Linked DNA regions of Homo sapiens: all the other regions are linked to region 3. Evidence: fine-mapped expression QTL. A gene starts in region 3. Each other region holds a variant in brackets. All regions are shown on one strand. Distances are from middle to middle.

Region 1 (2,753 bases), 38 kb before region 3:
CCTGGGAAGGCGGAACAAGCTGGGCGGGGAGGAGGGGGCCTCAGGGGGCTGTTATGATAAGCAAGAGCTCAGTCTAAAGACATGCTCCCAAGCTGAAGGTTTCATTTCCTGCCAGGCAACTCACCCGTTTGAATCAAACACAGAATTTAGTATTCACCATAGAACAATCATATGACAAAAACTTTGCAGAGTTTACCCAGATGTAGGTTTTCCTTAAGGTAAAAGAGGAGTCATATTACCGAAGCCTCATCTTCTCACGAGTTCAAAACCTCTCCAACCTCTCAGGAGAAACCAAGGGCCGGAAAGGTTAAAGGCCTCACCCTCAAGGTCCCACCAAAGAATCGAAGCTGGTGCCAGCTCTCCGACTCCTACCCAGCAACCCGCCCCAGGTGGCCAGCAGCTGCCTCTGAGAATGCAGAAGGCCGAGGGGGGCTGAGAGTGTTTCTAAATCACAGCACACTTGCTCCATCCCGATGGCCTTGTGATGCCTGAGGCATGAGGGCAGGCCAGGACAGGAGCCATGCAGCGGGGTCTCCCACCCCAGGCCCTCCAGGCCCCCAAAAGGCTTCCTGTCAGGCCCTGCACTGCCCCCTCCTCCCACTTTGATCCCAGAGAGGGGAGGGGGTGGAGAGTCCAGAGAAGTCCCCACTTGGCATCGATTTGCCCAAAGCAAAGGCAACACAAAGGCTGCACCTGTTTCCATGGAGATGCGACGGGGAAGCAAAGGAACAAAACAGGGAGAAACACAAACCCGTCACCACCTCCCAGGCCAGTGTGATCGATGCTGGCAGACCAGAGCCCTGACAGGAAGACAGCGGAAGGATGAAAGGTAATCAGTGGATCTAGAAGCCACACTGGGAGCCCTTTCAGGCCACAGAGAGGAGGCCAGCAGCCTCGCCCACCCCCAGGCTCACAAACTCGCCTGGGCCCCGCTCTCGAGAACCAGTCCAAGCAAAAACTCCCAGACGGAAATCCACAGTGAGCACTTACTTTACAAAAGGATTCCTTGCTTGACTAAGGGATTCCTTCAAGCAGCAAAATCCCACCTGGAGTGCACTGTCTGTTTTATTTCATTATTCACTTCTCTGAGCAGGAGGAGGAGGGGGTCAAGGGAGTAACTTCCAGGGGAAAGTTTGTGAGAAGAGATGAGGGGATGGAGGGGTGGGGACTGGACTCTGTTCATAAAACATCTCCTAGGAGAGGCCCACAAGAAAATGGAGACGTGGTGACTTTAGAAGAGAAAGGTGAGCAGGCTAAGCGCCTGAGGCCC[A/G]TCCAATAGGGAGGACATGGGAACCTGAACAGTGGAGAAGAATGGGCGGCAACAGGTGTCCCACTAGGTCCCTGAGGTTGCCACAGGTCCCATCAGGGCACACAGGTGCTCTCAAAACCACTGGGCTATGGGGAAATGTGGGGGCAGCCTCATCTCCCCCAGGGCAACAAGGCCAGTGGCTTGATGCCTCCCCGGGTGAATGTTGGAGGAAGATGACAACAAGAGGCCCAGCAGATGGCAGCGGCTCAGAGGCTGTCATAAGGGCCTCTTGACTGGCACTCATTGTTCATCAGGTGACACATACTAAGTGCCACTTAGCACATGTGGTCATCCTGGGACGAAGGGGCAAGGCCATGCACCAACACAATCCTGCCCTTGGAGAGTCTCAACCAGGCCTTCACTCCACGGAGTCTCTTCCTGACTATAATTCTTACAGGGAACAAAAACCAAGGATAACAATAATACTTACTGAGCATGCCATGTGGGCCTGACACTAACACTTGTCTCATTGATCCTCTCAACCATCCCATGAGAGAGAGGCCTTTCTTCTCCCCATTGACTGATGTGGAGACAGGCACAGAGAGGTAAATAACTCACCCAAGGTCACACAGCGAGTAAGTGGCAAAGCTAGGATTCAAAAATAGGTCTGCCCAACTTCAGAGCCTGTGAACAGCAGGCTCAACACCTGCCACATCAGCCTCATTTAACAGGCAGAGACACTGAGGCTGAGAGAATGCAGGTGACGTGCACTGAGGCAGGGGCAGAGGCTGAACTCTGAAGACTACTCCTCCTGACCCACCCCAAGGCTTTTTTGCCTTGTGATGCCTCCACTAGGAATGCCAGCTGGCTTTTTTGGTGGGGTACATGGACTGCTCTGTGTAGTCACTCTCCTGTTCTGGACCTCAGTTTACCCCCTCAACAAGGTGGCATCGTTAGAGTGTGAGCCCCTGCTGTCTCACTGAGAGGAGCTGAGAAGAAACATGGGGCGTGCATTCAAGGTGTTACCAGGGAGCTGGTGGGAGAAGCAGTCTCAGTCTCAAAGATCCACAAGCTCTGTAATGTCCACAGAGCAAAATCCTAGGTAGGATATCCAGGCTGCTACTCAACAGTCTTCCCACCAGAGTACATGTGCAAAACCCTCAGGGAACCTGGGGACTTCCCAGAAGTATTCAGACATGGATGGCTTCCAGGGAATCAACTTCTGAAAGCTCCACTTCCTGTGCTTCTTCCTAAAACTGATCAGCCGGGAACCCTCTGGGTCTGCCAGTTCTCCCCTCACCAAGGCCCTCCTAAACACTTCCCAAAAGAAAGGCCTACCCCCAGTCATCCCAACCTCACCCTGGTATCCCGCCCTGGGTTATAAAAGCCACCAAAGAGACAACGGAAGAATGCAGCCCTCATGGGAGGAGTTCCAGCAGGACAAAGAACTTCCTTAAGATGTTGAGAAGGGGGCCTTATCTATCTTACCTACCCATCTGTTTAT
Region 2 (2,753 bases), 89 kb before region 3:
GCTTCAGGAGAGATCAGGGGAGTGCGTGTGGAAGAGCACCATAAGAATGCAGAAGATGCTAAGGCCCTGAGCTGCTGGGTGACCTCCGAGTCAATCCGAGTGATGGGAGGGGCTGTCAGCCTGCAGTGGATGAAGGAGGATGGCAGGGAAGACTCAAGGACCCTTGGTGTTTAAGGGGAGGAGGAGGAGGATGTCAACTTGCAGAAGGAGCTGGAAGGGGACAAGCTGGAAGTCCTAGGACAGAAATAAATGATGAGGTGCAGGTACGGTGGCTCACACCTGTAATCCTAGCACTTTGGGAGGTCCAGGCGGGCAGGTCACCTGGGGTCAGATGTTCGAAACCAGCCTGGCCACATGGCAAAAATCCATCTCTACTAAAAATACAAAAACAAATTAGCCAGGCAAGATAGTGGGTGCCTATAATCCCAGCTACTCGGGAGGCTGAGGCAGGAGAATCGCTTGAACCTGAGAGGTGAAGGTTGCAATGAGCCAAGATTGTGCCACTGCACTCCAGCCTGGGCAACAGAGCGAGACTCTGTCTCAAAATGAATGAATGAATGAATGAATGAATGAATGATGAGCAAGTTTCTGATGTAGGGGTGGTTTGGACAGGACCCGTTCTCCCTGGGGACCAGTAGGAAGGAGAAGGGCGTGGAGATAGTAGCAGCGTGGGGTGACAGTGGAGGCGATTCCCCGGCAGGCTCTATCTGGGCATTCCAGGACAGTGGGAAGTGGGCCGCGGCTTTGTGTTTGAGGAAAGCCTGAGGGGAATAGAAGGGGCTGCAGTGCCTGGTGGGAGATGTGGTAGGGAGTCAGGTGGAGTGGGTGTGGGGGCCAGCTGCCCAGGCAGAGAGGAGAGGGCACTTGTATTTACTTGTTCCCGGTTTCCCTCCATTGTGACTATCCTGAGGCAAGTGAGTATTTCTCCATCGTCTGACACAGGGCCATACCTGCCACACCATCAACTCAAGAAAGCCTTGTAGATGCTGCCCACTGGGACCAAACAAGTGGCTGGGGAAGGCCGGGCAGCTTCCCCTCTCCCATGGTAAACGGGGGCTGGAAAAGGGACAGCTGTCTTGGCCAACTCCTGGAGGAGGCCTTGGTATTTTCTTTTTCTCCCCAAGAGGGTGCACAGGAAGCGAGGAGGAGAAATGGCTTGGAGCCCTGGGGCTTCAGCCAGAAACCGCTGCCTCAGGAGGGTTTCCTCATCCTGGTGTGGCAGATCCCAGCCCACCCAACCCAAGCAGGGGGCTGGAGAGAGTTGTGTGTGTGCACAGCC[G/A]GGTTGAGACCACCTCAGTTTTTCTTTTTCTTTTTTTTTTTTTTTTGAGATGAAGTTTCACTCTTGTCGCCCAGGCTGGTGTGCAATGGCGCGATCTCAGCTCACTGCCACCTCCGCCTCCCAGATTCAAGTGATTCTCCTGCCTCAGCCTCCCAAGTAGCTGGGATTACAGGCGCTTGCCACCACGCCAGGCTAATTTTTGTATTTTTAGCAGAGACAGGGTTTCACCATGTTGGCCAGGCTGGTCTCGAACTCCTGACCTCAGCTGATCCACCCACCTTGGCCTCCCAAAGTGCTGGGATTACAGGCATGGGACACCGTGCCCAGCCAGTTTTTCTTAAATCATCCTCTCAGTGTGCTACGTGTGTCCTGGACTGTCTTCTCAACTGGACTGTAAACTCTTCAAGGTCAAAGCTGATTTTGTTTTCCTGTTCTCAGCATCTGTCATAGGCAGGTGTGCTCATCTTTTGTCAAATGAATAAATAACCAAAAAAGACATGCAATGAACTAGTTCCCACGCCCGTGTCCCTGCCGCAACTATGAGGGAAGACACGTGGGGCCTGTGCTACCCAGTTGCCTGAGCCCAGCGCCTCTGGACACCTGGGAGGACATGTGGGGTGCATAGTGTGGGGGGCCCTGGCCTTGGGCAGTCCCTGGGTTGCTATGGCTCCAGGCCTTACCTCTTACTGTCCTTCTCGCAGGCCTTCCTCCACCTTGGGTGCCTCCTGACGCCTGCCCCGGAAGTCTTCATCTGAAAAGGAGAGGGAAGCTGCCTCATCCTCTACCCTGCAGGGCCTCGCTCAGGCACGGCCCCTAGACTGGGCAAGAGAGCTGACCCGACTCTCTCTGCCCCCTTCATTTGGGACCCATGCAGATCCCCCCAGGTAGACGATGCATGGGTCCAGGGAGAGAGGCAGCAGGACACTCAGGTGCTGGCCAGGGTCCACCACTGAGCTCTGAGACCTTGGACAAGTTCTCCCCTCGTCTTTGGGCCTCAAATTTCCTCATCTATAAAATGGGATGGAAAAGCTGGACTATCTAGATGACCTCTGAGGCCCTTCCAGTCCTTGTTTCTGGATGCCTCCTGACCCTCGAATGTGGCATGAGGATCAGGGTTCAGCTGCGGGCCCAGGAGGGTCTGAGGCAGAGTCTTCTGGCCCACGTGGCCTTTGGAAGGGACTGGGTGAAAGTTGAGAAGCCTCTGGGCCCACAGACTGAAGCTGCCCAGTGCTTGGTTCTCAGGCCGAGGGTCCCCCATGGGGGCAGGCCTGTCTGCCACCTCACACCCAAAAGAATATTCCCCAGAAACAGTACCTGGCACTTCATGCTACAGGTACACATCTAGGTGGAAGTAGGGCTAGGGCCCCTTTTCAGGGGTTGCAGAAAGGGGGAAGCAATGTCGACCAAGTCAGGGGGATCCATATCTTTGGGTCACCTGCCCACCAACCCTCAGTGTGTTCCTCCAGGGGACAGG
Region 3 (2,753 bases):
TGGACAGCGGGTTTCACACCCAGCCCTGCTGCACACGCTCCAGCTTCCTGGAGACCCGAGCCAGGTTTCTCCCAGCAGCACCTCTCCATCCCAGAGATGGCACCATATTCAAACTGAGGTACCAGTGGCACTGACCCCCAACAACAGAGAGGACCCAGCTTCACACTTGATCCAGCAGGGGCCCAACCACATGGTGAGATGACTTCCTCCGTGAGAGAATTCCTGGGGTCCCTCACCTCCTTCAGGCACAGCTGGCTATAAAGAAAAGGGGTGAAAGGCCCAGTACATCTCCCTGAGTCCTTTCTCCTGGGCCAGGTGGCTCAGGTGCTGCGGGATCACCCAGGGAAGGCTCATTCCTCTCGCTACAAGACGCTGACTGCGGATCAGGTGGGGAGCACGGTGGATGGTCTTCTTGTATCCTCTATCGCCTCCAGGGCATCTTGTTTCTAAACTCCCAGGGAGTCCCCTCATCTTCTACTCCACTACTCCACCAAAAAAAGGAAAATCTAAACCCTCCCTCCCCTTAAAACACATTCCGTCTCAGGAATTTAATTTCAGTGTACGTTTCTTAGAGCTAAAACTTTTTTTAAGGGGAAAAGAAATGGGCAGGGCAGTGCTGGGTGTAAGGCGACCACGCGACCGAGAAAAGGAAGAGGGAGGAATGAATAAACGCTGACACCAGCCCCCCTTGGAGCTCAGAGCCTGGGGCACAGGAGCCGGCGGGGCGGGCGAGCAGGGGCGGGGACAGCGCATTCCCAACTTTCCCTGGCCGAGCTGACGGGAGATACAGCTCCCAGGGGACCGGGAGGGACCAAAAAAGGCTGAGCCGACCTGTGACATCGGCGGGGGGCAGGAAGCGAAGCTCCCCTCCCCCTGAAAGGCGCTCGGCTCCCAGCAGGCGCCCCCGCCTGCCGTCGCCGCCCAGCCTGCGCCCCCAGGCCCGGGCACTGCGGGGAGGGGCGCCCACACAAAAGGGGGAGCGGCGGGAGAGGGGACTCGGGCGAAGCCGGCTCCGGGAGGCCTCGTCTCCCTTCCCTGCGGCGCTGGCCCGCGCCCCCCGGTCTAATCGCGCGCCCCGCTCCCGGCCCCCCAGATGCCCGCACGCCCCCCGCGCCCGGGGCCCGGGATGAGGTGGGGGCTCGGGAAGGAAGGGCGGGCGGGGACCTGCCGCACGCGGAGCTCCCGGGGAGCCGCGCCGACAGCCCCGGGAATCAAACTCGCGACGGCCCGGCCCTCCCGGCGGCGCCTGGGCAACGGGTCCCGAGAAGGTGGGGCCGCTGGGCCGGGGCCGCGGCCGGGATTGCGCGCGGGGCGCCGGCGAGGACCGCGCCCGGGGCCGGGCGGGAGCCGCGGGAGCGCGGGGGTCTTACCGGGCAGCGCCACGCGCGTCCGCTCCGCGCGGGCCGCAGGGGCCGGGCCGCGGGCCGGGCGGGGGAGGGGCTGCAATCCGCAGCGGTGGCGGCGGGGCCAGGCTCGGCGGCGGCGGCGCGGCTGGGGCGCGGGGAGGCGGAGAAAGTGAGGCGAGGCCGGCTTCCTAGCGGCGGGCGGCGAGAAATGCAGCTGTCCCTGCGCGGCTGCCGGCAGGGCCACAAGTGGGGCCGCGCGGGGAGGAGCGGGGCTGCGGGCGGGGCGGGGCGGGGGCCCGGCTGCGGCGCCCCCGGGCCCTTTCCCTATGGCCGACCCCTTTCCAGAGAGGAGGGAAGCGGACCTGGGGGTCCGGAAACCTACATGGTTGCCGGGGGTGGAGAGGGGAGCACCCAGTGAAGGCTGGAAAAATGCCCTCCGTGTACCTCCCTCCCCGGCCGCAGTGACTCCCTAGCTTGCGGGCAGGAGGGCGTGAGCGGGGTGCCTCGACCTCCCGCGCAGAGCGGGGTGCGGGGCATCCTGCCCCTCCCAGCTGCGGAGAGGGTGGGCGGAGGAGACCTGAGACCTCCGAGACTCCGCGGGGAGCTAAGAGCAGGGCTGCCCGACAGGTTCCAGGTCAGTGCCAGGAACCCAGGGTGAGGACGCACAGCTGGGGCTTGGGACACAGGTGTGGAGGAGGGGCACCTCCCTGGAATTAGGGCCCCGGAAAGGAAACCAAATCAAATGCTGAGGACACAGGAGATGGTGGGAAGGGGGAGCAAATCAAAGCTATCACTCGTCCACACCGACAGATACCACCTGCCATCTCCCATTTTCTCCTCCCCCAACCTCCCCAGCATCCCTGATCACTTCAAGGGCTGCTGAGCCCTGGGAAGATTTTCCACGGAAGAACTTGTTTAATAAATGGGAAACTGACCTTTGCTATACTTTTCCCACGTGCTTTCATTTCAGACTCCAATTTGGGAGTAGGTAGCCTAGGTCAGGTGGTGACCACCAAGCACCCTGCTACCTAGGGGATCTGAGGAGGGTGAAGAAGGCCAGATGCAAACTAAGCTCTGTCCCCAAACAACTTGCAAAGGGTCTGCACCCTCCTCCTGGAAAAGTCTGCCTTACAGACCCATTTGCCCATCTGGGCCCAGAACCCCAGGAATAGCCCCCCTCTCCCCTCCTCTGAGCGCTTGCAATTTGCTAGCCTTGCTGAGACAGATCGACACGCTCAGCCTCAGAGACAGCTGATGGTAAAAACCACAAACCAAAGTGCCCCAGACACCAATGTGTTTCCATCATTTGCATGTCAAGGGCAAGTTTCTTCAGCAAGGTGGGAAACTGGGAGGGGGAGAAACCTCAGAACCACACCCTCCTCGGGGAGGCCCAACGTTAGGTTAGCA

The links. PIP is the estimated chance that this variant, and not a neighbour inherited with it, causes the effect. A credible set is the group of variants that fine-mapping cannot tell apart.
Region 1: its variant is the best candidate, but not a certain one, in a credible set for the expression of CUEDC1 in whole blood (TOPMed, PIP 0.64).
Region 2: its variant is the best candidate, but not a certain one, in a credible set for the expression of CUEDC1 in whole blood (TOPMed, PIP 0.51).

What each region holds. Positions count from the first base shown.
Region 1 is chr17:57,915,796-57,918,548 of GRCh38, forward strand. The region is part of intron 1 of CUEDC1 (CUE domain containing 1); the gene reads right to left. CUEDC1-AS1 (CUEDC1 antisense RNA 1) reads left to right here. Exons shown (of 2, transcript XR_001752948.2): 2 at 1-521. Among named protein-coding and RNA genes, the nearest start is that of CUEDC1-AS1, 5.0 kb to the left of the region's middle. The variant A/G (reference allele first, on the strand shown) is at 1,271.
Region 2 is chr17:57,864,515-57,867,267 of GRCh38, forward strand. It overlaps CUEDC1 (CUE domain containing 1), which reads right to left. Exons shown (of 11, transcript NM_001271875.2): 10 at 1,960-2,030. The coding sequence ends at 1,963. Among named protein-coding and RNA genes, the nearest start is that of MRPS23, 16 kb to the left of the region's middle. The variant G/A (reference allele first, on the strand shown) is at 1,280.
Region 3 is chr17:57,953,855-57,956,607 of GRCh38, forward strand. It overlaps CUEDC1 (CUE domain containing 1), which reads right to left and starts at 1,558. Exons shown (of 11, transcript NM_001271875.2): 1 at 1,371-1,558. RefSeq lists a silencer at 1,413-1,482.